4 linked regions of the Homo sapiens genome follow. The protein of the gene in region 1 interacts with the protein of each later gene in a biochemical or structural test. Each region holds a gene or a part of one and is shown on either strand. Other genes may lie near its edges.

Region 1 (7,255 bases):
GCGGGGGGAAAAATCTCCTTCTAGAAAAAGCATCGAAATTCAGGGCGGCCGGGTGGGGCGGTTCCTGGAGCTGCTGGAGTCCATTGTAGCCACAGTCCTGAGTCTCAGGCGGAGAGAGGGGTGGGGGGTGGATGGATGGACCCCCATCCCCATCCCAACCCTGCCAAGAAACAGAGACACAACCAGGATGTGAACTCACGTACACCACCATCACCGCCAAGATGGGGATGTAAGTGTCCTGTTCACACCGATGTCCAGACCCACGACCATCGACGAGCCTACAGACCTACGGACACAGGAAACCGACGACTTGTGTTCACACTGTCACACACACCCATTAACACACACGCACCTCTTGAAATGGGACACGTATATTGGTGTAGGCTTAGCGACACAGCAGTACCTCTTTGACGCACGTATGGACACAGGAAACTGTGGACTTGTGTTCACAACCACCCCCAGCGCACACATAAACACTCACAAACCCCTCGAGATGATACAGATAGCGACGAAGGCACATGGAGACCACGACACCTCCCAGACTCATGGAGCCCTGAGCACATGCTTGGATACAGGTAGACACAAATGTGTGTTCACCCCCACACATGCTCACATGGACCCAAGGACGGACAGGCGGATGGATGGATACACATCTTTACACAGAGACATAATGCAGTTGGCTCGCTCAGGTGTGTACACAAATAACTTTTCTTTTTCTATTTTTTTTTTTTTTGAGACGGAGCCTTGCTCTGTCGCCCAGGTTGGAGTGCAGTGGCGTGATCTCGGCTCACTGTAACCTCTGCCTCCCGGGTTCAAGCAATTCTCTGCCTCAGCTTCCCGAGTAGCTGGGATTACAGGTGCCCGCCACCACGCCCGGGTAATTTCTGTATTTTTTAGTGAAGATGGGGTTTCACCATCTTGGCCCGGCTGGTCTTGAACTTCTGACCTCGTGATCCACCTGCCTCGGCCTCCCAAAGTGCTGGGATTACAGGCATGAGCCACTGCACCCGGCCACAAATACCTTTTCAAACACACACACACACACACACACACACACAAATATGCACCAATGCGTGCTTCCCCCTCCTTGCCACAGGGATAAAAAGGCAAACATGCCGACATTTGCTGACACACACAAAGACATACATGGCCGCACACACGGATACACCCGCTCTCAGACACGCAGCGACCTACGCCCATTTTCCTGGCCATACAAGCAGCCGAACGTTCCTGTACTTCTGTATCTGCATAGCTCCCCCAACACTCCTTCCATGGGAGGGGGATGGCTGGGGCTTCCCTGATGCCCCCTTCCCCCAGCTTTCTCTCTGGGTCACTCTGGCCACCCCTCTGTCCCTGCGAAGCTATAGCTCTCTGTCCCTGCTCCGGCCTGGTGCCCTGTTTTCATGGCACTTGGCATTTTCTCTCCGGCTCTGGCCCTGCCTGATTCATGCCCACTGCTGGGGTGGGAGGTGTGCCCAGGTGTGGGCCGGGATGGGGTAGCTCATGAGATGAGCTGGGGCTCCGTGAGATGTTTTGATGCTGGGCCGAGCTCAGAGCCGAGGGCTCTGCCGGGAACAGGGTGCTCCAGTCTCTCTAGGGCCTGGAATGTCTTGTGTAGCCTCAAGAGCTCCCAGACGGAGGCTGCGGGAGCGGAGTCAAGGGCTAGGCTTTGCCGTCAGACAGAAATGGGTTCGAGCTCCAGCTCTACATGTTCTAATCTTGCGACCTGAAGCACAGGATTTTCCTGGCCTGTAAAATGGGCAAAAACCAGTGTCTATCTCTTGGGCTGTACTTAGGTTCAATGTGGTGCCTGGCACATAGTGTGTGCTCCATAAATGGTAATTGTTGCCAATTGTTGGTTGTCAACCTCCCAGACCCTCCCAGCTGAGAGAGGGATGCCTCTGAGGGGTAGAAGACAGGATCGAGCACCTCCCAACCATAGATATCCAAGTGGACTGCCTGGAGGAGGAGGAGGCAAGAGGAGAGTTTGGAAGGATGAGAGTTTGCACATGGCCCAGCTCTTTTACCTTTGGATGGGGGCCTGTAGGCCAAGCAGAGGGTGGCACAACTTCAAGATAGGGGAGAGATGGTGGGGGAGAGTGGGGGGCAGGAGGGGAGAGACGAGGCCTCCACTGTTCCATGAGGACCAGATACCCTGGTTGGGGGCCCTGAGTCCTGGTATAAGAGTATGTGTGCACGCATTCATCCAAATGTATGTGGGACAAAGAGACCCGGTGCATCTAGATGATGACTTCAGGGACGTCCCCAAGCTCCAGAACTTTCTGTGTCTGCACCTGGGCGTTGTCACCTGGACCCGCCATGGAGACAGGACATATGTGCAGGACCCTATGGTGGGCACTTGGCTGGATCAGGGCACATTGCGGGTGGGAGCAATGCTGGGTGTTTGGCCGTGGCGCCGTGGCTGTGGGCAAAATGCCCCCGTGGTTGGTGTGTTGACTGCCGTCCTCCCCATCTAACCCACAGGGAGCCTGGCCTTTTAAATCTGCTGAGATATTGTCTCCCCCACCCCCATGAAGCTGGAATCTGGGGACTTGCTGGACCAGAGAGGTAGGGGAGGCTGGGCACTTTCTCCAACACGGTGCTGAGAATGGGCCTTCTGTCCCCTCCCTCCCAGCTGGGGTGGGGAAAAGGAGGGGGGTGTCTTAATTTTCTTGCCCCCAAAGCCCTGGATGTGGGGGCAAGTGGGCCAGGAGGACAGCTGTGAGCCACTATCTGGGTTCTCCCAGATCGGTGTGCATGTTAATCGGCATGTCAGGCCTCAGAGCCACCATTTTCCCGAGGATGTCTGTGTGGCAGCGTGTGTCTGCCCGGGTCCCTCTCCATGCCTCTCCATGTCTCCCAGCGTCCATCACTGGGTGCTACCTGCATGTGACTCCACGGATCATCGCACGCCCTGTCTCTTGTGTATTTGGTAGTGGGGGTCGGGGAGCGTGCCACCATGCGTGTCAGTGTGCCGGATGTAGTCTCTGTGTCACGGTGGCGCTGCGCACGTCAACGGGTATTGGTGTACCGGTCACCATCTTTGTATCTGCGCTTTGTATCTGGGGTGACAGTGTCCCAGCGACATGCGTCACATCTACAGCAGTGTTTTTCTGGGTGTCTGTGCGTCACGGCAAAGAGTGTATCCGTGTGTCTCACACACGTGTTGGCCTGTCCGTGTCAACTTGTGTCCACATACGTGTCAACGCACGTGTCTCCAGTGTCATCACCCTCATATCACTGTGCCTCCTGAGCTTGTCCCCGTGACAATCACTGTGGGTCTCACCCCACGGGCGCCTCTCCTGGGCATTCCCTTGGCCTCCGAGCACCATGTGAGATGCCTGCTATGGCGGCCGGGCAAGCGGCTGGGAGCGGGCTGGCTGCTCAGTCCCTTCCCATGAGGTTGAGCGGCCGCAGTGGCCTTGCTGGGGGCCCCGCCCGTGCCCCTGGCCTGGCGTGGACAGAAGCCCGTTGTGCGGCAGCGAGGTGCGGGCGTGTGTTCGGGCCGCCCACAGGCCTCCCTCTGTCTGCCCGGCGCACATTGATCTTGGCTTCTGCCTGTGTCCGTTCTAGCCTGGCCAGCTGGGTGTCCGGCTGTCTCCGTGGGCCTGAGCCCACTATCCCCGCTGCCCCCACAGCCAGGCAGGCCCTGGGCCCCACACCCCTGGGCCACCCGCCATCCCTCCGAGGCTCTGAGGGCGCGGATTTGGAAACTGAGGTCCCCCCTTCTTTCCCCCTTTCTCTCTCTCTCTTTCCTCCCTCTCTCCTCCCCTCCTCCCCTCCTCCCGCTCCCTCTCTCCCTCTCTCTCTCCTCCTGCCAAACGCGTCTTGGCTCCGTCTGAATATCTCTCCTCCTCGATTTTTGGCTCCAGCTCTGGGCGCGTTCACTAAAGGAAGAAGGGCTAGCTCCCCAACCCCCCCTTCCTCACCACCTCCCCCCTCCCGAGGAGCCCCTCTGAGGGCGGGAGTGGCCTCGTGCAGGGGCCTGGGCCCCCTGAGTGGGCTTGGCCAGGGGGGCACAGGCCTGGCGGGTGAGGGAACAGGGTGGACAGGGCCTGGCAGCCAGAGGGAGGCAATGGGCAGGGTGACTGAGCTGCCCGGCGGGGCGGGCGGGCAGGGAGGGGTCGGGGGCACGGAGCTGGGGTGTCTGGCTTCTGGTGGGGCTGGCAGGCCTCTGTGAGGCGCAGCTGTGCCCAGAACTCCAAGTTGCGTTTGCCACCACTACCGATGTGGCTGCGCCAGCCAGGGAGGGGAGGCGGGTAGCGGGCACTGCGGCGCTCTGCAGCCAATCGGAAGCCGGGGTTGCACTGGGGAGCTCTCCCCCCACTGGGCCCCACCCTGAGGGGAGCCGGGGGTGGTGGCCAGCAGTGGGCAGGGGGCAGTGCCCACCACCATCGCCAAGGACCCTGCCCCCTCAGCTGAAGCTCAGTGCCAGCCTTCCTGGCACAGATCGGGCAAGAGCGGGGATCTGTCTGTCCCCACCTGAATCTGTGTGAGCCAAGCTGGAGGAAAGGACAGCATGGAGGTGCACCCGACCCCCCTGGGCCTTTTAGTCCAAGGCAGGCAGGAGCTAGGGATGGGTTCCAAATTATCCAGGTGGTTCCGTCCAAATATCGGCTTCGGTCGAATCATCTTGGGGAGTTGGGGGGGGGTTTATTCCGGGTCCATCTCACACAAAGTCACACACTCTCACTGGCACATGCGGGCACAAAGAATCACGCTGACACACACTGGCATGCTGCACCTCCCTCAATCAAACAGACACAGGCGTCCCCATACAAAGAATCTTGCCCTCACTCACAGACACCTTGAGGCACCCGGCCACACCCGAACACATCGATGCGGCATTACACACTCAGGGACGTGCATGTGGGTGCAGACACACGGGACACGCGCAGTCACACGATCACATGCCATGAAGCACACAGCACAGACACAGGCTCTGCCACCGTCAAATGCAGCCCCACAGGCACAGCTAGAAACACACAGCACACACACTCAGTCATAATGTCAGTGCCCAAAACACACACATGAGCACCGATACACCCGCACATGCCACCAAGCACACAGGTACATGCACATGCATGCAATAACACGCTCTCAGACACACAAAACACCCCACACACTCCCTAACCCAGTGTCACCCACCAGGAGTGATTTCACCCATTGGGAAATGTCTGGAAACATTTTTTTTTTTTAGAGACAGACTGTCATCTGTAGCCCAGGCTGGAGCACAGTGGTGCGATCTCGGCTCACTGCAGCCCTGACCTCCCAAGCTCAAACGATCTACCCATCTCAGCCTCCTGAGTAGCAGGGAATACAGGTGCATGCCACCACACCTGGCTAATTTTTAAATTTTTTTGTAGAGACAGAGTCTGGTTATGTTGCCCAGGCTGGTCTTGAATTCCTGGGCTCAAGCAGTTCTCCCGCTTCACCCTCCCAAGTAGCTGGGACTACAGCCGAGCACCACCATACCCAGCTAATTTTTAAATTTTTAGTAAAGATGAAGTCTGGCTTTGTTGCCCAGGCTGGTTTTGAATTCCTGGGCTCAGGTGATCCTCCCGCCTCGGCCTCCCAAGGTGCTGGGAGCCATGAGCCACCATGCCCAACCTGGAATCATTTTTGGTTGTCACACTTGTGGAGGGGGTGCTATTTAGTGAGTGGAGACCCAGGATGCTGCTCAGTCCCCTACAATGGAACCCCTCAACCCTCGCCGACCACAAAGAATGATCCAGCCCCAAATGTCAGTAGTGCCAAGGTTGGAAACCCTGCCATGCATCCCCAGATACACAGTAACACACACAGGCACAGCTAACCCTTGACACTCATTACACATGCACCCACATACACAGTCACACCCAAACAAGACGCCAGCTGACAGTGTCACACACACACACTCTCCCTCACTAGGACCCAGGCATTGTCGCATATATACCCCATTTCCCCTGCCAAACCCAGGCACAGTCGGCGTGCCATGTACACAGTCCAGTGTTACCCCAGCACACAGGGACGAGAGCCACACCCCCACACATATTCGCACCTGGGCCACACCTGGCAGTGGTTGGAAATGGTGCCTGAGAGCTGAGACCTGCCCTGGTGGCACCTCCCCTCTGCTTGTCAGCCACAACCAGCTGTCTTTGCGCAGCAGCTACAGCCACCCCAGCTTCTCAGGATAGAATTGGGAGCCCCAAATCCCTGCCCTGGTTTGTAGAAGCCTGGGGTGAGACAAAGCCTGGAAAAACCACATGCCCATCCCTGCCCAGGACACTCGCAGTCTTCTAGACTCCGTGGTCGAGGGCTCCACCCTCACCTCCTTGCTCCTGGCAGCCACCGAGAGAAGGGATGGGGACAAAGCTAGGTTCTTTTTTTTTTTTTTTTTAAACAGTCTCACTCTGTTGCCCAGGCTAGAGTGTAGTGGTGCAATCTCAGCTCACTGCAACCTTGGCCTCCCAGGCTCAAGCAATTCTCATGCCTCAGCCTCCCGAGTAGCTGGGATTACAGATGTGCACTATCACACCTGGCTAATTTTTGTATTTTTAGTAGAGACAGGGTTTCTCCATGTTGGCCAGACTGGTCTCAAACTCCTGGCCTCAAGTGATCCGCCCGCCTCGGCCTCCCAAAGTGCTGGGATTACAGGCGTGAGCCACTGTGCCTGGCCAACAAAGCTAAGTTCTGAGACTCCTGTCCTCCGTGGGGCTGTCTCACTAATCCTTTGGCCTTTGACTCCCCAGTTCTGACCCCAGAGAAAGAAGAGACAGCGGTCAGCAGAATGGTAGAAGAAGATAGGATAATAGCAAAATAAATGTTTGTCCTAAAAATCGTAGCAACAGCTAATGTGAACTGTGTGCTTGCTGCGTTGCACCCTTGCTAAGTGCCTTCCCAGCTTGTCTTCTTGAATCCTGTGTTCAGCAGGTACTGTTATTAGGAGAGTGGGGCCTGCAGAGCCAGCTTCCTGGGTTTGACTCCTGGCTCTGCCACTCACTAGCTGTGTAACTTCAGGCAAGTTGCTTAACCTCTCTGGGTCTCAATTTCTGTATCTAGGAAGCAGGGCTGTGGTAAGGATCTGAGGAGTTGGTTCACAGCACACGCTTTAAAACTGTGCTTGATGTGAAAACCTGCTTTGATTTTATGGATGAAAAACCAAGACTCAGTAGAGGTATCCAGTGCTAGGGTCAAGGGCGGGGAGCTCTTTCTTCAAGATCGTCACCACCCTAAATCCTGCCGATGGGACAAAATTGCAGCTTGTTCTCTGGCC
Region 2 (7,255 bases), on another chromosome or scaffold:
TTATACAACACCACCACCTCCTCTCCCCCAATCCACCTCCAAACTTCCCTCTGCTTCTGCCAGATTTTTCTATTTCTTCCATTAAGTAATTAAGAAAATTCAGGTGAAAAGAAGGTAACTGTTTTCAGAATTACCTTGGAAAGTTATAAACCTATCTTCTAGAGTTTGTAGCAGCACTTTCAGAACAGATATGGTAACACATGAGGACAGTAACTATTAGAAGAAAACTCACTGATTAGAATTAGCTGTCAAATCAATGGAGATGAGGTAAATGAAATACATTTGAAGCCCTTGAAGTGTGTCTAAGAAAGTGCTTAAATTAATGGATTCTGACTTTTCTAAGGGTCCAATTTTTCACAGCAAAGCACCAAAATTGTCTCCAAAGGCCCTCTGAGCTTCTTACAAAACAAGAACTACCTGGAACAGATTCTTCTTAAGTCATCAAAGTTTGTGTTTCTAGAGTTTATATTTAGCTGACAATATTGCTGTCACTTTATGTAGCTTAAGACTGTTCTTTGGACTAGAGCTCATATGTCTTGGAATGCTTTGACTCATGAATTGTTTCTCCTGATAATGTTACATCACGTAACTACCTCTGTCTAATTGGTTAGTATCTGCTGGAAGAGACAGGCAGCCAGCCTAATGACTGGCCTGCTGACTGACTGCCTATGGAAAACCTATAATTATTAAGTGTCCCTGAGTATCTGGTTTCTTCCTGGGATCAAAACAACTTGACTTCATGTAACCTCTATCTATACTTTTTGCTTGATATAAATAATATGGTCTTCTCACAGTTTATCTACCAATAACTTTTTGGAATTTTTGCTTTGGAAAGCCAGGCCCAGATTTTATAAATAAATTCAGTGACTTAACAATAAGAGTAAAACCTAACAATGGCTACTATAAATATACACTAACTTAGAGGATTTTAATCTAGCACAATGACTTTATAGCTCAACGAAAGACCTCTGTGTGGCTGGAGTGAAAGAAAGCTGTCTAAAATAATAGCAGAATGAATTTATTTATGTAAGTTCACTTTGAATTTCCTCTTCATATAAAATGAGAACTACAATTTTTTAAGTGAATAAACAGACATCTCTCTGTCAGCGTGAAACTGGCCCATTAATATGGAAGCCCAAGTACAGGATATCTTATCCAATTATATTAATAAAAATCATAAACCAGAACAATAACTTCTCAGAGACAAAGTGTAGGAAATTGTCACTGTATACTTTTCCATCCTTAACTCGAATTTCCCTCTTCAATATTTCCAGAAAAAAAGAGAAAAATGAATATTGATACTTTAGATTGTTTCAAAATATGAAAATTCACACAAACACTGAACAAATTTATATAAAGAAACTAATCTCTGAGGTCCTCCTTTAGCTAAATAAGGCAATCTACCAAGTCCACTCTTTCATGTGATGAAATAAGGTATAAGTTTCAGGTTCCTATTCAAAGACAGACAAGAAGAAGAGAAAGAAGAGGGAGGGAGGAAGGGAGTGAGAGTAGAAAGGGAGGGGAAGAGGAGGGGAAAAGGGGAGAAGGTAAAAGGGGAGGAGAAAAACAACCATGGCTTTGCAGTTCATTTTCAGTTTGTCTACTTAATGAAAACCTCATTGTACAAGCCTGAAAATCATTTCCAGCAGGCAAAGTACTTCTGATTCAGCAGAGGTTACACAAGCATCAAAGCAGTTAAATATAGGTGCCAAGCTGCATTGCCAGGAGCTCTTAGTACTGTGAGTTAGTGTTACCTGACAGCTTAGTGAATATAAAATTACTTGTTTCTCCAATTGAAGACAATCAAATTGTCACCTTCCATTGTAATAATGCACAACTAGTGATCAGCAAAGTGCAAACATAATTACCATGAAGAAAACAAAATATCAAATCTAAATTTTTCAACAGAGGAAACACATCTATCTTCTTCCCCAAAAAAGGAGTGCATTTTAATCCTGAAGGCTATGATGCAATCTTCATGTTATTTAATAATAAGATTTATTCATCTTAAATTAAATAAAAATGAAAAACAACAAGAAATACTAATTCATAAAAAGTGACTACAAATATTAATAAGAGCACTACAACTTTCCAGACATTTCCAAGCACAAAGACCTACAAATTATATCACTGCCATTTGAACCTATATCATTAAAGGGTATGTCAGCGCATTTTCCATTATAAAAACTTTGTTTTTAGAGATGTCTTTCTAGCCTAGCAACCTTCCTGAAGGTTGAAAAGGACAGGCAGGATTCAACTTCAAAAGCTTTTGTCTTAATTTTTCTTTAACAGAGAGTTACGCTTCGTTTTCGTCTTCTAAAGTAGCTTATATTTTTGATGCTGAAAATTCATCTCATGAAAGTGATTTAATATCTCTACACAAGTTTAGAAAAATAACCAAGCATAGGACACATATCCACAACTGTTTTTCAGACACTCAGCATCTAGAATTCTCATCCAAATTTGGTGACCATATTGGCTCACTACCAAAGTGATCTCAGTAACCTGAAGCTAAATTAATATTAAAGGACTGAAAATTTGACATGGTTCTCCCGCACTCCAAAGATTCCTAAGATACAAATTAAAATGAATATAATTAATATAGATAATGCTCCAAACAAACTGCATTTTAAAAGCTCTCTTAGAAAAGTGATTTTATTTCATAACTAACTCAAGATTTAAGACATTCAAATTTATATCATTCCTTCTAATACAGCAAAAACTCTAATCATTCTCCAAATACTCTAAATATAGGGGCTTTTTCCATCAATAATGTCATTTTTATCAGAAAATATGTCCTACAGCTAGGCCTGCTGAGGTGGCTCATGCCTGTAATCCCAGCACTTTGGGAAGCTAAGGCAGGTGGATCACTTGAGGTCAGGAGTTTGAGACCAGCCTGGCCAACAAGGTGAAACCTGTCTCTACTAAAAATATGAAAATTAGCCACCCATGGCGGTGCGCGCCTGTAATCCCAGCTCTGCAGGAAGTTGAGGCAGGAGAATTGCTTGAACCTGGGAGGTGGAGGTTGCAGTGAGCCAAGAGCGTGCCATTGCACTCTAGCCTGGGTGACAGAGCAAGGCTCTGTCAAAAAAATAAATAAATAAATAAGAAGAGGAAAGAAAACAGAAGAAAGAGAGGGAGGGAGGGAGGAAGGAAGGAAGGAAGGAAGGAAGGAAGGAAGGAAGGAAGAAGGAAGGAAGGAAGGAAGGAAGGAAGGAAGGAAGGAAGGAAGGGAAGGAAGGGAAAGCAAGCAAGAAAGAAAATATTTCCTACAGCTAATGCCTGATATGCCTGACATTCCATTTTTACCATATGCCTGATATGCCATTTTACCAATATTTCCTACAGCTAATGCCTGATATTCCCATTTTAACCATTTCATTTTTGAAATATTTCCTATAGCTAATGCCTGATATGCCTAATATTCCATTCCAATTTTAGAACAGATACTTCTGTTCTAAATAACATCATTTATGATCATTTAACACAAAAATAGACCAGTTTAGCAAAAAAGGGGGAGGCACTGACTACACCAGGGTGACAGTGAAATGAATTGAGGCTCATCAAGAGCATAGGCTCTCCTGAGCTTGAATCTTAGAATACAAATCCAGACATTAGAATAATGCTTTCATCTGGTATCAGTCTCAACTGGTGTTCCTCAGTCTTGCATTGTGTTCCTCTTTCTCCATTCCTCTATTTTATTACGAAGGAGTAGAGGAAAGAATGAGATGAAGACATTGGTTGAACATCGGTGGCTAAATCAGAAGGAAAACAAGGATAGCAAGCGACAGGAGAAAGGGGAAGTCCAGTCTCTAGCTGCACGTTTTATTTTGATTTGAGATAAACTTAACATCATTAAGAGAAGTGTCTGGGTGTAAGAAATAAGACGGTTTTAGAAAAACATCTTTTTCCTTGTTCTTAGAACTTTCAAATAATATAATACAATTTTTTCCAAGAGACACTTCTTATAAGCTCAGCACAATAAAAACCTCCCAGGCAAAGGGGATTGCAATCAGTATTTCCTAAACTTCGATGATGAGTAATTTAATCAATTCCTGAAATTATACTCCTACAGAGTATTTATTACAATATACTAAAATAAAAAGTATCAACGAGAGGAAGAAAAGGAAACTTCTTGTCAGAGAACATCTTTCAGACCCTGGGAGATAAATGCTTACATAGCATAAGCTCATGGTAAATGGGTAAAAGGAGAACTCATTAAAATATTTTGTTTAATTAAAAAACAAGTTAATTCTGTATATTTCATGAGGACAGGGATCATCTGTCTTGTTCATTGCTGGATCCCCAGTGCCCAGCACAGTGCACAACACATCGTAGACAATCAATACTATGGGAATGAGGGAGGAAAAGGCAGAGAGGGAGAGATAGGCAAATAGCTTATTGTTTTAAATTAAAGTGAATAGATAATCACAGAAAATACCACTCCATGTTAATACTGCCAATCTAAACATTATTATTTCTCTATACTGTTTTTATCAAGCATCTCATTAAGTCATAAGATTATTATATCCATATCCCCAACACTAAACTCTCTCATCTCCCAGAAATCCAACAGTCCTCAAATGACTGTTAAGTATTTATACCAAGATATGCTCTGCAATTTCATATTAAACACCTTAAAACTAGATTCATCACTATTTTCCTCAATACCTCCCCTCATTCATCCACACCCAGAAGAGTACCACTGTCAGAATCATCAAGGTTCAAAACATGAACACTCTATCCACCTCCTCATTTTTATCCTTGCTTCTCAATGCCAGCCAGTCATGAAGCTCCATCAGCTATTCTTTAATGTTTCTTATGCTCATCTCTCTTACCATACTTATAATCACCTTAGCACAGGGCTTTTTCACACCTCATACCTAAACTCTTACAACAGACCCTAAACTACTTTCTCTATTTTAGTATCTCCTCCACCAAATCAATCTTAACTGCTACTCCCTTCATCAAGCCACTCTCCTGATCAAAAAACATCAGTGGCTCTCCCCTGATGACAAAATAAAGTCCAAACTCCTGACCCTGGCACTTGAGGCCCTCCATCCAGATACAACCAATCTTTATACATTTATCTTCACCAGTCAAACTTCACTTATTGTTGCCTCCTAGCCTTTGCTCTGCCTGTCTCTCCCTATTTTCCTCACTTTCCTTTCTTAGTGTTAGGAAACCAACTGAGACTATTCCAGTTAACTACGATCTACCCCTCTTCTAAACACCTCTAATAAGATCTGTGAGAAATTACTTTTTATATCACTCATTCAACACTTAATGGATATTACCTCACATAATCTTTTAAAAATGTATAATATCATTATATTTTCTAAGTAACCCCAACCGCATTACAAACTTCTCAAGGGTGAGAACAAAATCCTAGCTTTCTCTGCATTCCCACAATACCTAGAACAATGTTTTGTGAAAAGAAACACTCAGTAAATACTTCCCAATTATTTAAATATTATTGAATTAATAGGCAGAAATAAATTTAGGGTGTTATCTTCAACCAGAAAAAAGTAGCCATGAAAAAGGACTTAAAATAAACTGGTTTCTGGGGGTGTCTCCTCTTTGCACACACTCTGGACAATAAATTCACCTCATATTTTAAAAGTTCTGCATATTCCCTGGCAAAGAAAGCCTCCCAAAATAATCAATTTATGTTGTCAGAAACATAAAAAAAGATGGATAAATGAATGAACCAATGGGCAGATGATGGATGGATGGATGGATGGATGGATGGATGGATGGATGGATGGATGGAAGGATGGATGGATGTTGAAGAGATGGTTGAAAAGATACATAGATAATTTTTACTAGATGCTTAGAAAGTACCAGGCAGGCACTGTGCTAAGCACTGCTACATGTATTATTTCATTTAGTTCTTAGAGCAACTCTAGAAGTTAAATAATGTCATTATCCCTGTTTACTGATAAGAAAGCCAAGGCACAAAACTGTTTATTAAAACAATAAAAATGAAAACTTGCTTAAGGTCATACCTAGTAAATACAGAGGGCAAAATTTCAACTCAGGTTGGTCTAATGCCAGGGCAGATGCTATTAGAATTAAAAGTGTCTGAAATCTAAATTAAATAAATTATTAACTATTTTCAATTATTATCTGAATTATTCTTTACTAATTTATACCATTCCTGTAGAATTTTATTTTGAATATTCTGGTTAGATATTCTAAATACTCATTTAATCAGAGCTTAGTAAAAGGATTTGCTATCTTTTTCTTTTCTGTGTACTTCTACAGTTTGAGATATGTAATTACTAGTTAACAACTTTAAAAAAGAGAGAGAAACATAGAGCAGGTAATTCTCTAACCAATCCTTTTAACTGTCATTCTGGGCAATTTGACAACAAAATTGGTTGAGGAAGTAGTTAAAGCTACTGACACACAAGGCTGAGAGGTTCACTGCAGTTTTTACACAGTAATTTTCTAACAAATATTTGTTGGTTGTTAACTATCCATGCTTTTCCTAGCATGCTATTTCTGGTTAGCCTAGATGATCAACATTTAATTATATTCTTACACAGACAATTATGAAATAAAATAAGAATGTCACTGCCCGTTTATTTCAAGGCCCAGAGAAATATGAGATCCAATTTCTACCTTCCATCTCTGACCAGAGAAACCACACCAGCTATATCAGACAAAACTGGAGCTGCCTCACTACAAAAGTCGGTGTTGAGAACAGCCTTGAGAGAAAACAAGATGAGGAGCTTGAACAATATGTATTTAACACACTACCCGTCTAGAGCTGATTTCAGGGAATGCAGAGTAATTTAGATACCCTCTTAAAATATGACTACTATATAACATTACATATATCCTAACTTCTGAGGAAAAGAAATAGAAAAGCCTCTCATATGAGGACATGAATTCTTATAAATTATAATTGTCTGTGAAAGCTGAAGAAAGGTTTTTACCACCAACCCAAATTTCCACATTTTTTTATACACACCAAACAGTCTGGTTTCACAAATAACTAAAGTGCTGCTATCTTGTATTTCTCCCTCTGTACTTCCACCACCTCCTCCCTTTCTTATAGCTATTTGCTTTAAATTTCTCACTTGCATTTGCTGGAATTATCATAAACAGCTCCAGGAGAACATGAGAATCCAATTGTTTCCATGAATCATTGCACAGAATTGTTTGAGTTATCATTATAAAAGACAAGTATGACTACCTGCTGTCTTGCATACTTAAGGGATTCTTTACCAAGTACATATTTGCACAC
Region 3 (8,226 bases), on another chromosome or scaffold:
CCGATGACAGGAGCCCTCACAGCTGAGCCGGCACCTGGGGAGGCCCTAGAGTGTCGCCTTCGCTGTTAAGGGGCATGGCAGAGGAGGCCCACCCATGACAGAGGAGCTTGTCATCCCAAGCAGGAATGCCACCTGGTCTGACATTAGGATTCAAAAGGCAAATGATAAACTCCTGACTGTGAGGCCGTGGTGGCTGCTCGGTTAATACTTGTGCACTTGACCTGAGGTGAGCATCCTCCACACCTCCCAGTGCTGGCCTAATAGCTAAATGATTTCCTCTGACTCACATTTATTGAGCAGTCACTATGCTAGGTAGGGGAGATGTGTGTGTGTATTCTTATTTAATTCTCTCATCACTTGGGGATATCAAGGGTGCATAAGATTATCAACATCGTACATATGCAAAAGCCGAGTCCTGAGAGGTTAATAGCGTGATCTGCCTAAGGCCCCTTGGGTACTAGTGGCAGGATTTCTTGACTTCAAGTCACTTTCCACTACATCCGAGACTGAGGATGACACAGCCTTATCCAAAGGTGGAGGTGGCCTAGAAAATGCTCAGGGGAGCTCCCACAGCCACCCCAGCGCACTCAGACTCGGCTGAAGACCCACAGGGTAGCTTCTGTCTGTCACTATGCTGCCCTCGACCACTAACCTGTGCCCGTCGGCCCTCCACCTTCCCAGTGCATAGGCCCTCCCCTGCCACACCCCAAAGCTCTCCGGATACCCCAGTATAACCTGCCTGGCTGGTGGGTCCAGTACCCAAGACCCCTCCTCCATCCCTGGTGATTTTGGCTCTGGAAGGGGGTCATTCACAGCCTCAGGGATCCAGAGACTCTGTGAAGACCTCCCAGGGAACTTTATGCTTGTACCTCAGCCCCAGAAATTCAGAATCAACCAGTCTGGGGTGGGATCTAGGCTCCAGTATGTTTTTTTGTTGTTGTTGTTGTTTGTTTTTATGAGACAGAGTCTTACTCTGTCACCCAGGCTGCAGTGCAGTGGTGCGATCTCGGCTCACTGCAACCTCTGCCTCTTGAGTTCAAGTGATTCTCCTGCCTCAGGCTCCCACGTAGCTGGGATTACAGGTGCGTGCCACCATGCCCAGTTAATTTTTGTATTTTTAGTAGACATGGGGTTTCACCATGTTGGCCAGGCTGGTCTCGAACTCCTGCCCTCAGGTGATCTGCCCGCCTCGGCCTCCCAAAGTGCTGGGCTTACAGGAATGAGTCACCACGCCTGGCTCAGTATGTTTTTCTTTTTTTCTTTTTTTTTTTTTTTTTGAGACAGAGTTTCGCTCTTTTTGCCCAGGCTGGAGTGCAATGGTGCAATCTCAGCTCACTGCAACCTCCACCTCCCGGGTTCAAGTGATTCTCCTGCCTCAGCCTCCCAAGTAGCTGGGATTACAGGCGCCTGCCACCATGCCCAGCTAATTTTTTTTTTTTTTTTTTTTTAGTAGAGACAAGGTTTCACCATGTTGGCCAGGATGGTCTCAATCTCTCGACCTCATGATCTGCCCACCTTGGCCTCCCAAAGTGCTGGGATTACAGGTGTGAGCCACCACACCCAACCAAGGCCCAGTATGTTTTTCTTAACTCCACAAGTGATTGTAAATTCAACAAGAATTAGAGCCAGTCCTAGGCAACTGATTAGAAATGCAGAACCTCAGGCCCCACCCCAACCTGAAGAATCCCAGTGCGCCTTCCCATTTGAGAAGCACTGCCCTACGCCAAACCCCGTATCCGCAAGCCAGGCCCTGTGAAAGGCCCCCGCAGGGAAACTGGAGGTAGGAGGGCACACAGTCCAGATAGAATTAAAGAGTGGAGGCCAGGACCCCCCAGGTCGCATCCACACAGCACTCAGAGGTGCTAAACGCTTTCCCTGTGTTCCCTCATCCCATCTCAGCCCTGTCCTCTGAAAGTCAGGAAGACAGTCTCATGCCTGTGTGGGGAAACTGAGGCTGGGGCAGAGCCTCAACTTGACCAGACCATCCCTCACTCCTGCATGGCCCCTGGTTCTGCAGCCAGCAGATTTCCTGACCTTCATCTCAGTGTATCCTTCAGGGCAGGCAGGGAGGGAGGGTGACCATCGCCCCACGTGACAGGTGAGGGACCAGGGACCCAGTGGGGGAACACAGGCGGAGCCTTCCATAAAGCCGGACCAGCTCCCTCAGGAAGAGGACTTGGGAGCTGGGGGGTGAAGGGTCACTGCTGACCGGAGGCAGCTCTGCCAGGCAGTGTCATCAGTGGGCTTCACGTTTGACTGACAGGTATTCCTTTCCTCTCCTCCTCTCTGGGGCCCATCTTCTGAGTAAATCCGGGACCTGCCTTAACAAAAGCCAGGCTGAGTCCCAGGAAAACCCTGTTGCTCCGGAAAGGCCTCCTTGGGCCATGGAAGGAAGCCTGGATTTCCACCATTACACTCAGACCGCAGACCCCTCTCTGCTGCAGAATAAACACCCTGAGAGAAGGCAGGTCATAGAGCCTACCAGACACCACACCTTGCCATGGACGGTGACAAACCCTCACTTCAGGACAGAGAGGTGATGGGGGGTGGGGTAAGGAGGTCACAAGCATCCCTGGAGAAGGGTCAAGAATGAGGGGGTAAAGGGACCCCTGCCACCCCCAGCAGGGAAAGGAGGAGAAGGTGACACTGGCCCTCCTGTTGTCCTGCTGGGGCAGAGGCCCAGGTGTCTTCAGCCAGGATCCCTCCCCTCTCCAAGCTCCCTGCTCTTCAGGAATGACTATGGGTCCTTCACCCTTGCCTGCTGGAGAGCACTGGGTTCCCAGGGCCTGGGATGGGATGGAGGGGATCCCAGTTGCCAGCATGGTGGGCAGGGATGTGTTCGCAGCAGGGGCCCCAACCACACACACACAGCACTGGTCATCTGACAGCCCTTCCCACCCGCCCTGCAGGCCCACCTGCCTCACCCAACACTGCTCAGCAAAAAGCCCAGCACAGCCCTGAGAGGAAGGCAGTGTCTGTGCGGGGACAAGGGAGAGAGAGAGGGAGTGGCCCCTTCTGTCTAGCGTGGCTTCCTGCAGACAGAGCGTGCCCACTGCTACCCCCACCCCCATCCTGGCACAGCTGGACCAAGGAGGGCAAAGGAGGAAGCAGGGAGTTAGAGAGGGGGCAGCTGTGGGACCCCACATTCCACCTCCTAACTCTGGGCTCTTTCCTTCCACAACCACCCCTCCTGCCCCAGGCGGGTCTCAGGCCAGTCACAGACACAGCAGAGAGCGGGGAGGTCCTTTCCTCAAAGAGGAGGAACTGAGGGGTGGAAGGATGAGTGGGGACCCACCGGGAGAGAGAGATGCCAGGCAGGCAGGCAGCGGGCGGGCAGCAGCGGGTGTTGGAGGCGACTGCAGGGCAGCCGGGACACGACGGCAGATGCTCGTCCCTCGTCCCTCTGTCCATCCAGGGCGGCTCCTCTCCGGGCGGTTCTGAGGCCGAGCGGGCGCTGTTAAAAAGCTTTTTATGTGTGTGTGTGTTAATCACATGATTGCCGTTCACCTGTATTTCGAACAAAGACAGCTCACTGTTTCAAGGCCCCGAACAAGAGTCTGGGCACAGGGAAGAGAAGGGAGGCGGGGGGAGGAGGGTTGGCAGCGCCGGGGGTGGCGTCGAGGAAAACTGGGGGGAGATTGTCCAAGGCCAGCAAGCGAGAGAAAGAGAAAACCCTTATCAAACTCCTAATTCACTGGGCTCCGAGGCCCCAGACACACTGGCCCGATTGTCTGGCTGGTTGTGTGTGTGAGCATGTGTGTGTGTGTGTGTGTGTGTGTGTGTGTGTGTTCCAGTGTCTGCTCCCCCCACCCCCAACATGCCTCTGCCTCGTGTGACTACCTCATTGTGTCCCATTTCCCACCCCCTACACCCCTTTGGACTTTCCCAAGCATGAGGCCTTGCCTCCCCAGACCCTTTGCAGCCCACTCCAGACAGGACCCCTTGGGGTGGTCTTGGGGCTTTGCCCTGCTGTTGAGGAGCTCAGAACGTCACATGGTTGCCAATGCGACCCCAGCTCCATTACATAACCCACATACACCCCACCTCGGCCTCAACACCCCGGCGGGGCTGCCCTCAGTTAAGAGAACAGCACTGCGACCTTTGGAGGAGAGGCCAAGGAAAGAGAGAGAAAAAGGTGTCAACGGAGGATGGGCAGGAAAGAAAAGGGGAGGGAGGGAGAGGTGGGCAGAGGAGGGAAGAGGCAGGGCAAGTCCCCACCCCTTGTTGGGGTGGGGGAGTAGAGGACTTCGTGACAATCAGGACTAGGACTCCCCTACCCTCTCCCAAGACAGGGTGAGCCCAGTGTGGAAGGAGCTGGGTCCCAGTAGGTAGCAACCCAAAATGCCTCTAAGACCTACTGAGAGAGGGCCCCCAACCTGTCCCACCTTGGCCTCCTGGCAGCTTTAGTCTTGTGTTTCCACCTTGAACCAGACCAGAACGCGCGTGTGCTGGGTGTCTGCAGAGAAGGGACCAGGGGTCAAGCTGGGGCTCTGCACTTCTCAGAGGGATCCCTGAGAAGTCTCTCTTACTGTGCAGGATGGGGCAGAAAGGGCTGCCTGGGAAAAGGTAGGAGGCAGGGTGAGGAGCTGGGCATCAGTGCCTGGCACACACTAGGCACTCAACAGGATTTCGCAGACGAAGCAGCTAGGGCCAGCCACCCTCACGGGCCCCCAGGACCCTCACCGCCTTCACGTCTCTCCCTAGTCCCCTGCCAAGTGCCCATCCTGCCACCTGAGGCAGACGTTAGGAGTCCTGGTTGGGCCCAATTTTCTTCCATCCAACAGGTTCTGACCCTCCAGCCTACATCTCTTCCTTCCTCGGCCTAACCTCCCCTCCACCTCCCAGACTAAGCCCAAGATAAGCCTCAGCAAGATGGGCCTGGGCAGTAGGGCAGGGAGCTGGGTGGGGGGGCCTGGGCTCCGGGTGGAGGAGCCCTGAGTGTTGGGGATGAAGGAAAGCCTGGAGGCTCCACCTTCTGCCCTTCCCTCCCTCCTCTCCCCTCCCCCCTCTCCCCCTCCTTCCTTCCCCAGCCCTCCGCAGCGGCTCAGGCTCAGTCGCTCAGTCAGTCTCGGGCTGTCCGGCCAGGGTGGTTGGTGGTAAGGATTCAGGCTCCGTCCTAACGAGGCCGTGGCCTGAGGCTCAGGGCCCCCCGCCCCTCCCTCCCAGCCCACCAGCGTCACCTCCCAGCCCCGAGCTGGACCGCACACCTTGGGACACGGTTTTCCACTTCCTAAGGACGAGCCCCAGACTGGAGGAGAGGTCCGAGGAGGTGAGTGCGCAGCCTGCTCCTCCCTGGCCCGCCCAGGCCTGGGACCCTGCTGTGAGGTGGAGAGAGGCGACACCCCGCCCTTGCCCCCCACCTGGCTCTCCTCTAAACCCCGTTGGGGCAGGCTGAGGGAAGAAGGAAAGGTGAGAGAAAAGGTGGGAAATTCCAGGGGCCGGGATTAGAGCAAAATAAAGGCTCCGTTTTTTTCTTCCTTATCATCAACAAACCTCCACCCAAAAAAGGAGGCTAAAAAAAAAGCCACCCACACCAAGAGACGGTTGGGACCAGGTGGTGGGAAGACACAGAGGCGGGACGCACCCACCTAGAGTCTGGCATGTGCGTGGGCCCCAGGGGCCAGATGGGTTTAGCTGGAGCAGGAAGGGCCGCCACCTCGGGGCTGTGCCCACGTCCTGTCTCGGGCCGCCCTCGGGGCTGCGCGCGCGGCCGCTCCATCGCGCCCTCCTTCCATCCAGGTGGGCGTTGGACTCTTTGCGAGGACCCCGGCGGCTGGCCCGGGGGAGGCGGCCGAGGCGGCGGCGGCGGCGGCCGGGGGCGACATGGCGGAGGAGCAGGACCTATCGGAGGTGGAGCTGAGCCCCGTGGGCTCGGAGGAGCCCCGCTGCCTGTCCCCGGGGAGCGCGCCCTCGCTAGGGCCCGACGGCGGCGGCGGCGGATCGGGCCTGCGAGCCAGCCCGGGGCCAGGCGAGCTGGGCAAGGTCAAGAAGGAGCAGCAGGACGGCGAGGCGGACGATGACAAGTTCCCCGTGTGCATCCGCGAGGCCGTCAGCCAGGTGCTCAGCGGCTACGACTGGACGCTGGTGCCCATGCCCGTGCGCGTCAACGGCGCCAGCAAAAGCAAGCCGCACGTCAAGCGGCCCATGAACGCCTTCATGGTGTGGGCTCAGGCAGCGCGCAGGAAGCTCGCGGACCAGTACCCGCACCTGCACAACGCTGAGCTCAGCAAGACGCTGGGCAAGCTCTGGAGGTGAGCACCCGACCGCCCCCCGGGCTCGGGCCCTCTAGCTTCGGGTGGATTCAGGGTAGCCGAGGCGGCCCGGCCTCCTGCACCTCAGAGCGGGACTGTCTGGCAGTCCTCCTTGGATAGGGCTGGAAGACCAGGTGTGGGGGCCGCGCCCGCCCTTCCATCACAAGGACCCTGGAACTCGGAACTCCAGCGGCCTAGGCCGGGTCTCCCTACGGGGCGGCGGGCAGGAAGGCGCCCCCTCGTGGTTGGAATTTTGCGGGTGGCAGACCGTGGGGCCTGGGGCTTTGGAGGGAGGGAAGGAGGCCTTCACTAACTCCTGCCCACAGATACGCACACTATGCCACCAGCTGCTGTGGTCAGGAGGATACGAGGGAAACGCTTGGAAAGAACCAAAGGGTTGGCTGGAGATTCAGGGAAACTGAGGCAGTCAGATGGAGAACTCAGGGGAGGTTTAAAGAAAACGGAATTCAGATGAGAGTCTTTGGAAGAGTGAGGGATGAAGAACTGCGGGACAAATCTGCTGCTGCGGGACCTCATCCTATCCTAGGGCTCTTCCCTGGGACTTTCTGACGCCACCCTCCTTTGAGTTGGGGGCTTCTTCATCCTCCTAGGGAGAGGACACACAGTAAGGGGCTCCCCCTCCTGCCCTGCCCCAGAGTCACCAAGCTGATCTCTTTCCTCCCTCTCCCAGTTCGGCGCCATCTTCCCTGCCAGGGCCCCACCCCAACGTTGAGCAACCTCTTCCCCACTGCCCCAGAGCTGGAGCTGAGCACTCTGGCCAGAAGGAAACCTTGGCCTCCTTCCTGCCCAGGGGCCCTCAGAGTCCCAGGTTCCCTGGGACCAGCCCACACCTCTAGGAAAAACATCCCCCGCAGGGAGCAATTATCCCACCCTCGACTCAGGTCTGGGGTTCAGCCAGGCCTCCTGGGGATGTGTGGAACAAGACAGTCCCCCACTCCCACCCGGGAGTGCCAGAGCAGCTCTGAAAGAGACCAGGGACTCCAGGAGATGTGAGCCGGTAGCAGTCACCTGATTCTCGCTAGACTGACCAAGAGACAGGCCCAGAAAGGCAAAGGAATCACAAAGGTCACATAGAAGTTGGTAGCAGAGCCAGGGCCAGAACCCAGGACTCCCATACTCTCTGTCCAGAGGACTTCCCCTGACCCTGGTGACAGTGGTGGATCACCTACACTTTGAGGAGTGGTCAGGAGGTTGGGGGGAAGCAAGAAGATGAGAACAAGAGTGAGGAGCATCTGGGTTCCAGAAAATTAGGGCTTTGTCAGAGGAGCCCGGCTCTCTTCCGCTGCCCTCCCCCTTGCCAGCCACAGTTGGGTAGAGATTGGGTCTAGAGGCTTAGAGTGGTAGAAGGTGCAGGAGGATCTCCAAGAGACCAAAAGATTCACATCCCGCCCCCTGGCCTGTTCTTGCCATGTGTTTGCTGAAGACCTGGTGCCCCTTCCCCTGCCCCTTCTCAGCCCTCAGTGCCCTGCTCACCCAGGGCAGGCCCAGGGCTCAGCGACCAGCCCGCTGTGTGGACCCAGACAGCCCAGTTCTGCCCAAGAGCAGAGGTCACAGCTAGCTCCTCCACCCAAGGTCCATCCAGATCTGGGTGGGGCTTGGCCCAGGCCAGTATCTTTAGTGCCAGGGGACAAAGAGCAAGTGAGAAACAGACAACCAGGAGAGACATACAGATAGGGCAGACTCTGGGGACCATGAGAAGACCACAGTACGAGCCCAACGAGAGTCAAAGCAAGGACGGACCTCATTTTCCCTCCATCTCCCATTGCCAAGGGTTTAAGATTGGCTCCTCCATTGTCCCTGTCCCCAGGTTCCCCCAGCCCAGAACCCTGGGCTTGGACTCCCTTCAGGAGGACTTATTCTTGGCCATCACTCAAGCTGTGTGCACAGGGGCCAGCCTGAGGTGTGGCAGTCAGGAAAACTGGCACTACTTGCTGAGGACCCAATCCCAATGGGA
Region 4 (7,434 bases), on another chromosome or scaffold:
TTTTTTTTTTTTTTAGACGGAGTCTCGCTCTGTCACCCAGGCTGGAGTGCAGCGGTGCAATCTCAGCTCACTGCAACCTCCACCTCCCGGGTTCAAGCGATCCTCCTGCCTCAGCCTCCTGAGTAACTGGGACTACAGGCATGTGCCACCATGCCTGGCTAATTTTTGTATTTTTAGTCAAGACAGGGTTTCACCGTGTTAGCCAGGATGGTCTCGATCTCCTGACCTTGTGATCCTCCCGCCTCGGCCCAAAGTGCTGGGATTACAGGCGTGAGCCACCGTGCCCTGCCTGCCCTTGGACTATTGACTTAGGTATTCTCCATCATCTTGCACATTGCAAAGGTGGTTGTCGAATTTGGTGGAAAGGTTTAGTCCTTAGAACTCTGCTTTTCTCCTCAAGAGTTCCCTCCCTCAGAGATTCTATCTGTTCTCATTCATTCTATCTAGGTCCACCTCTATGTGGATGTCAGCTGATCTCCCTCAAAGGCACTTCTCCAGGATTTATTCTCTCTAGGTATAACATTTAGTTTTGCCTATACAGTTAATTTTGCTCCAGTCTTCCCAATTTCCCTTTCATCATCCACAGCACCATTGATTTCCTGATGCTGCACATTTCCAGTCTTGGAATTACCTTTGATTCTTCTTAAGCTTGTCACTTCCAAATTATTTTCCAAATTCTCTTCACCCTAACTCCACTGGGCCCATTAACTTTGTCCACTGTTTCCTCCTCTCCCTTCTCTGTCCCTATGTGACACCGGAGCCAGATTTTCTCTTTCGTTGGGTGTGTAAGTATCCGACTCGCCTCCTGCCCGGGCGTGTTGCCGGAGGATGTGGCCAGCAGGCTGAACACACATGACAACGTGAGGCTCAAAGTCAGGAAGGAATCCTTAGCGATTATTTTACAGTTGAGGGATGAGATGCCCGGGGTGGACAACCCTCTGGTTTCGGTCACAATCAGCCAGCCTCTCGCGCTCCAGCACCCCCTCTATTGCTTCGCCGTGGTCGGTGTCTTCTTTCCTTCACACCTTTGGTACAGACCCAGCCGGCACCGCGCGCAACGCCGCTAGAGCCCCTCAGAGCCCCAGCTCCCGACCACCCGCCGGAGAATTTCGAGTCCCTCAGGAAAGCAGCTCCCATTGGCCAGCCCGGCCCCCTCCCCGCACCTCATTGGCTACTGTCCTGCAGGTCCCGCCCTCTCGGCGCCTCAGGTTCCAGCGAGGGCGTAACGGCAGTGAAGTGAAAAATGGCGGGAAAGGCCGCCTCTGAGCTGGCCGTGCATCTGCGCAACGCTGGCTTGGGAGCCGGCCGGTGGTGGAGGAGCCCTCGACGACAGCCTCAAGGCCTGCCGCTCCTCACGCGCCCGGCTGCCACTAGACCATGGACGCAGGCAGCCGCGCGCTCCACCGCTCCGGGCCCGGCGCTCCACGCCGATCGGACGGGCGTCGCTCACACCACCGAGGCGAGCCCGGACACTGAAGCCACTTTGTTGTCCTCGGCCCAGGGCTGCAGGTTCTGCAGCGCGAAGAGCGACGAGTTGTGCAGGCAGAGAGGGTCCGGGGGCAGCGGCGGCCGCAGCGGCCGTGGCAACGCGTCCTGCTGCAGATGCAGGAGCAGCCGGCCCGCGCGGTGCCGCTCGGCCTCGCGCTCCTCCGCCGTCTGGCGCCTAAGGGAGGGAGACGCGGGGTCAGCGGGGCGCCCGCCGCGTCGCTTCTCACCAGGCCCTGCTCGGGAACCCCAGTCCGCCCTCGCCCGCGCCGCGCCTCACCGCCACTTGGTGCGTCGGTTCTGGAACCACGTTTTGACCTGTGCGTCGGTCATGCGCAAGGCCTTGGCCAGCGCCGCCCTCTCCGCAGAGGCCAGGTACTTCTGGCGCAGGAAGCGCCGCTCCAACTCCAGCACCTGTGAGCGGGAGAAGGACGTGCGCGGCTTCTTCCGCTTCGGAGGGGTCCGGTTTTGGTAGGGGTGGCCTATGCGGCGCGTCCCAGAGAAGGGCGAGAGCGCAGCTACCGGGAGGAAGAAAGACCAGGGCAGGATTTGCAGGGTGGCCCGAGGTGCCACTGAGAAGGCCGCGCGGCTGTCCAGGCCGCAGAACTCCCGCGCCCTGTCCTTACCCGGGCCCTAAGCATCAGCCGAGCCCTATAGCCAAGAAAGGCCCTTCCCCTGGGATGCGAGGGAGACGTCCCCTGTAACTTCACCCTCCCCTCCCCACGCGTGGACAGTGGGACTACAGAGGAGGGCGCGGGCACCGACGGCAGCTCCCTCCCCATCACCTCTCGGAGGCAGGACCCAGAGATTTGAGTTGGGGGAGGATCCCCTGGGAGGATCTAGTGGGAGGTGTGAAAGGGGTCCTTGAGTTGGAGCAGAAAGCTAAGAAATGAGGAGACGGGGTCAGAGTCGGGCGTGACGCTGGAGGGGTCAGACAACCTCACCCGTGAGCCGGTCCTTGGCAAAGCGGCGGCCGCTGTCCATCCAGGGGAAGGTGAGTCCCGCTAGGCCTCCGGCGCCGCCCAAACCCGAGGGCCCAGGCACTGCAGGCGCCCCCCCAGCGGGCGGCGGCACAGGCAGCGGGCGGTGCGCAGGGACGCGGATCACGCCGCCTGGGCCCACTCCGGAGCTGCCGGGCAGCGGGGCAAGTGAGCCGGCGGGACCGTAGCCCGAGGCTCCGTGGTATCCACCCGAGAACGCCCCATTCTCCCCATGACCCTGGCCCCCGCGACCCAGGCCTAGACCGCCCCCTGGGGTTTCGGGGCCGCTCAGGATCTGATCGATGCCGAAGCTGATTGGCTCGTGGTGTGGGAGGTTGTGTGGACCCAGCATCCCCGGCTCCATCGGTCTGGGCCGAGGAGAACCGCCGGAGGTTCGGTGGTTGGGGAGGATGCCTCAGGCAGCGCCAGAAGCCCAGCGGCGGCGCGCTCCGGAGAGTGGCCTCAGGGGCCCGCGGGGCTGGCCAAGGCAGGGCGCCGGGGTCCCCGAAACAGCAGCATCCCTGTGCACCCGGAGCAGCCGCGCCCGTGCCAGCCGCTGCCGGGCGTCAGCGCAGGGACTTGCATCCCGGGGGAGCACGGCCAGCTGGGGCCCCTGGAGCTTCCTTGCTGGCTCTTAAGCGCAAATAGACGCTGGGCTGCCGGCGCCGCTGCCCAAGTCCCGGGTGGAGAGGGTTGGCCAGCTCCGGCTGGGGCAGTGACTGACGGATCGGCCCGGGTGGGTAGTGGGGGCTGGGGGTAGGGCAGGGGCGGGGCCCAGCAGTTAAAGGGGAAGGGACGCCTGTTTGCGCCAAGCGCAGGGGGAAGGCTGGCTGGCGGAGATGTGCGGGGAGGGGGACAGGGGGCCAGGGTGTTAGGAGCCAGGCTCAGCGCGGGAGGGGCCCGAGCATGGGCCGCTGAGTCAGCGGAGATGCTCACCGCGCCTCCATCCTTGCTGGCCTCCGCCTTTGGGCGGCCTCCGCCTTTGGGCTGCCTCCGCCTCACCGGCTTCCTCCGCAGGTGCCTCCTCCCCCAGCCCCCACTCTTCGCCTCTCGATGGATCCTTCTGGCCAACTCCCGGATTCGTTGTGGTCCCCGCCTAAATGCTCTCGAAGACCAAATCTCGTTGTGGTTTCCCGGCTGCGTAAGAAGCGGCTGGGGAACGGCGCCCGGTGAGCTGCAGGCCCAGGAAGAGAACAGGTGTGGGAAGGGGACGGCAGGGGCTAAGGGCGGGGAACGGCCGCTTTGGGCTGGCGATCGTGGTGCGCCTTCTGGCCTCTCCTGTAGGTCCCCCCAGCCCTGTTCATGCGCACCGGTAATTGGTGTCCTGTGTTTCCTAGAATTTCGATTTTCCAAAATCCGTGTAAAACGGACCATGGCTCAACCCGGGCCAAATCAGGCCGGCGGGTTCTTGGGGCTGGCACTTACCCCCGGACCCCAAGTGCAGGGAGTCCTCAATGCAGGACTCTGCCCCTCCATTCTGTGCCTAGGAAGTCTGTTCTCACACTCTTCCTCCTCAACGGCGGGAGGGCGAAATCTCGCCACGGGGGACACGTGGGACCTCACTGAGGCCTTGGTTGGATCCTGGCCGCCTTGTTTCCCATAAACATTTTACCCCACCCAAACTCAAAAAATGGCCTGGAGCTGTCAGAGAAGGGAGGTGGGGAAAGACCTAAGCCGCTTGGTGACCTTGTGACCTCTGGCCATGAATCCAGGAGCCGGGAGTGCGTGAACTCTGCGTCCTTCCCGGGGATGGGACCCCCGCGGGCGGGCCCCTGAGCCTTAGACCCGCCCCCGCCGCCGCCCTGCCCGGTGCAGGCCGCGGTAATCGGGTTAGCTGGGCCGGAATTACATTACCTTCCCCGGCCCGCCCCGGCCCCCGGGGGGGCCCTGGCGCCTCTGAGCCGGTGAGACTGGGCTCAGAGAGGGGGGCGCTTCTACCATCCTGCGGTGGCGGTGGCGGGTGGGCACCAACGAGCAGCTCAGCCTACCTCTGACACGTGGTGGCCAAAGGACCTTACCCTGCTGTGCCAGCCCTCTACCCTCGTCCCGAGCCCACCCCGCTGTTCAGCTCCATCCTGCTGGTTCCCGTGTGAACCGAAATGCTTTGTAAGTCTACTAGCTGGATCTCCCTGGGAGCACTGATCTTCAAACTGATTCTCCAGGATCCCCTGGGAAAGACTCTGCCCCCTCCTTTCTCCCCAGCAGATGGGCTGGCAGCCTGGCGCCTGGGGCAGGGTGAAGGGGTCTTTTCTCCCCTGGGAACCAGGAATGATATTTGGGCATCTGGGCAGAAAGATAAAGAAGAGAAAGAAGGGTGAGCTCTGTCCACCAGCCCTTCAGTGTTCTCTGAAGCCTTATATCTAGAGGAGGTGAACCATAAATGGGACAGAGGGCAGTGGGAGGAATAGTGGGCATTAATATGTGTCAACCTGCCAGGCGCGGTGGCTCACGCCTGTAATACCAGCACTTTGGGAGGCCGAGGCGGGTGGATCACGAGGTCAGGAGATTGAGACCATCCTGGCTAACACGGTGAAACCCATCTCTACTAAAAATACAAAAATTAGCTGGGCGTGGTGGCGGGTGCCTGTAGTCCCAGCTACTTGGGAGGCTGAGGCAGGAGAATGGCATGAACCCGGGAGGTGGAGCTTGCAGTGAGCCGAGATCGCGCCACTGCACTCCAGCCTGGGCAACACAGCAAGACTCTGTCTGAAAAAAAAAAAAAAGTGTCAACCTCCCCCACCTTGACCACTCTACTATCCAATTTGTCCAGCCCCTCCTCAGCCCTGCTAACAGCCCGTTCTGAAAGAGGGTGGGGGCTCCTACCAATTTAGCAGATGTATTTTCATCTTGATGGAGAAGACAGACATTATCACCTCCCGTCTCTTTACAGAAACCCATGCACTTTTCTCAGCAGTAGAGAGGGCTACAAGGAAGCATGAACCTGTTTAGTCCAAATCTTCAGGCCGGGAGCAGTGGCTCATGCCTGTAATCCCACCACTTTGGAATGCCAAGAGGGGACGGATCACCTGATGTCAGGAGTTCAAGACCAGCCTGGCCAACATGGTGAAACCCCGTCTCTATTAAAAATACAAAAAAATTAGCTGGGCATGTTGGCAGGTGCCTGTAATCTCAGCTACTGGGGAGGCTGAGGCAGGAGAATCACTTGAACCAGGGAGGCAGAGGTTTCAGTGAGCGGAGATCACCACTGCATTCCAGTCTGGGGAAACAGAGCAAGACTCCATCTCAAAAAAAACAAACAAACAAACAACAACAAAAAAAACTTCCTTGGTACCAAGGGCTGGATTCCTCCAGATGGGAGCAGGAAACCTAGGGAGACAGCAAAGAAATATAATCTCTGAAGAGGGCTGGTGTGCAGGTTAGGAGTTTGCTAGTCCCATTCTCTGCTCTGAAGGTTGAGTCTGGGGGCAGGGGGGCAGGGTAACCAGTGTGTCTCCAGCCAACCTAAATAAATCCTCCTTGAATGAATCAGTGAGTGAATCAACAAATGAAAAAAAGGCAACATCATGCAGACCCGTACACCCCTGCCGTTTGAGTTCAGCACAGATGGTACTGCCACCCAGGGACTGTCCAACTAATCCTTTAAGGAGAATGGTCACAAACTCAGTAGTTCATACAAGTGTTCTGGAGAGTTTTTAAAATATTTTAGTGCCCCACTTCAAGAACAGATGGCATCCAGTTACGTCACCCAGACCACAGTCCTAGGACTTTCTCTTTTTTTAAGAGACAGAGTCTCGCTATGATGCCCAGGCTGGCTGGCTGGCCTCAAACTCCTGGGCTCAGACAATCCTCCCACTTTGACCCCCTGAGTATCTAGAGTTACAGGTGTGCACCACCACCCCAACCTGGCTTGAAATGTCCTTTCTTGCCTCCTTGTCTCTGATTCACGGGGAAAGGATGGTTCCTGCTGGTTTATATTCAAGATTGGCTAGGCGCGGTGGCTCATGCCTGTAATCCTAGCACTTTGGGAGGCCTAGGTGGGTGGATCACGAGGTCAGCAGATTGAGACCATCCTGGCTGACACGGTGAAACCCCGTGTCTACTAAAACTACAAAAAATTAGCCGGGCTTGGTGGCGGGCACCCGTAGTCCCAGCTACTCGGGATGCTGAGGCAGGAGAATGGCGTGAACCCGGGAGGCGGAGCTGGCAGTGAGCCGAGATCGCGCCACTGCACTCTAGCCTGGGTGACAAAGCGAGACTCCATCTCAAAAAAAAAAAAAAAAAAAAAAGACGAAGATAGAGGTGCTGGAATGAGTGCCCCCTCATACACACTGCTTTGGATCTGTCTCACCATGTCCTGTGTGTCCGTGGCTCTCATCAACTTAGTCTTTCCTACCCCTCAGCTGTCTCAGATCTTTATCATCTGGACAAAATCTTTGCCTGAGTCTTCAAGAGAGATCATGCTTTTCCTTTCCTTTTTACTTCATGCCTACTGCCTCCATTTCATCATGATTTATTCTTGTTTTAACTCAGTGCAAGCTGCCTTCATTATAGTAACCCTTTCTCAGAGAGCTCCAGTGTTCAGTATCCCTCCTCCAGGACTTCCCTGGCATGTTTTACTTTGTTGGTCATCAATTATTTTTTGAAGTGTCCCTTCTTTTTGCTTCTGTAATATCTTATTCCACATCTTTGGACTTTCGTAGTCACTGCTTATGTTTTTCCTCCACTGATTTTCCTTCTTCCACTGAAGACTGTGAGGATTCTTCAGAGCTCAGACTTAAGCTTTCTTTTTTCTTTTCTTTTTTTTTTTTTTTTAAGACATGGGATCTCACTCTGTCGCTCAGGCTGGAGTGCAGTAGCATTATCACGGTTCACTGCTGCCTCAACCTCCCAGGCTCGAGCAATCTTCCTAACTCAGCCTCCCAAGTAGCTGGGACTACAGGTATGCGCCACCATGCCAGGCTAATTTTTGTACTTTTTGTAGTGACGGAGTCCCACCATGTTGCCCAGG

What was found.
Region 2: the proteins of NFIX (region 1) and SOX6 form a complex in vitro, tested with the Homo sapiens proteins (one study listed by BioGRID).
Region 3: the proteins of NFIX (region 1) and SOX10 form a complex in vitro, tested with the Homo sapiens proteins (one study listed by BioGRID).
Region 4: the proteins of NFIX (region 1) and TLX2 form a complex in vitro, tested with the Homo sapiens proteins (one study listed by BioGRID).

What each region holds. Positions count from the first base shown.
Region 1 is NC_000019.10:12,998,459-13,005,713, forward strand, and holds part of NFIX (nuclear factor 1 X-type), read left to right. Parts: intron 1-7,255.
Region 2 is NC_000011.10:16,346,528-16,353,782, forward strand, and holds part of SOX6 (transcription factor SOX-6), read right to left. Parts: intron 1-7,255. UniProt on the Homo sapiens protein: Transcription factor that plays a key role in several developmental processes, including neurogenesis, chondrocytes differentiation and cartilage formation.
Region 3 is NC_000022.11:37,981,382-37,989,607, reverse strand, and holds the start of SOX10 (transcription factor SOX-10), read left to right. Parts: upstream 1-5,052; 5' UTR 5,053-5,269; intron 5,270-5,739; 5' UTR 5,740-5,823; coding exon 5,824-6,251; intron 6,252-8,226. Other genes in the region: POLR2F (DNA-directed RNA polymerases I, II, and III subunit RPABC2), read right to left, coding at 3,296-3,454. UniProt on the Homo sapiens protein: Transcription factor that plays a central role in developing and mature glia.
Region 4 is NC_000002.12:74,510,202-74,517,635, reverse strand, and holds TLX2 (T-cell leukemia homeobox protein 2), read right to left. Parts: upstream 3,187-7,434; 5' UTR 2,830-3,186; coding exon 2,430-2,829; intron 2,004-2,429; coding exon 1,766-2,003; intron 1,664-1,765; coding exon 1,447-1,663; 3' UTR 488-1,446; downstream 1-487. UniProt on the Homo sapiens protein: Transcription activator that binds DNA elements with the consensus sequence 5'-CGGTAATTGG-3'. Binds DNA via its homeobox. Required for normal cell death of enteric neurons in the gastrointestinal tract.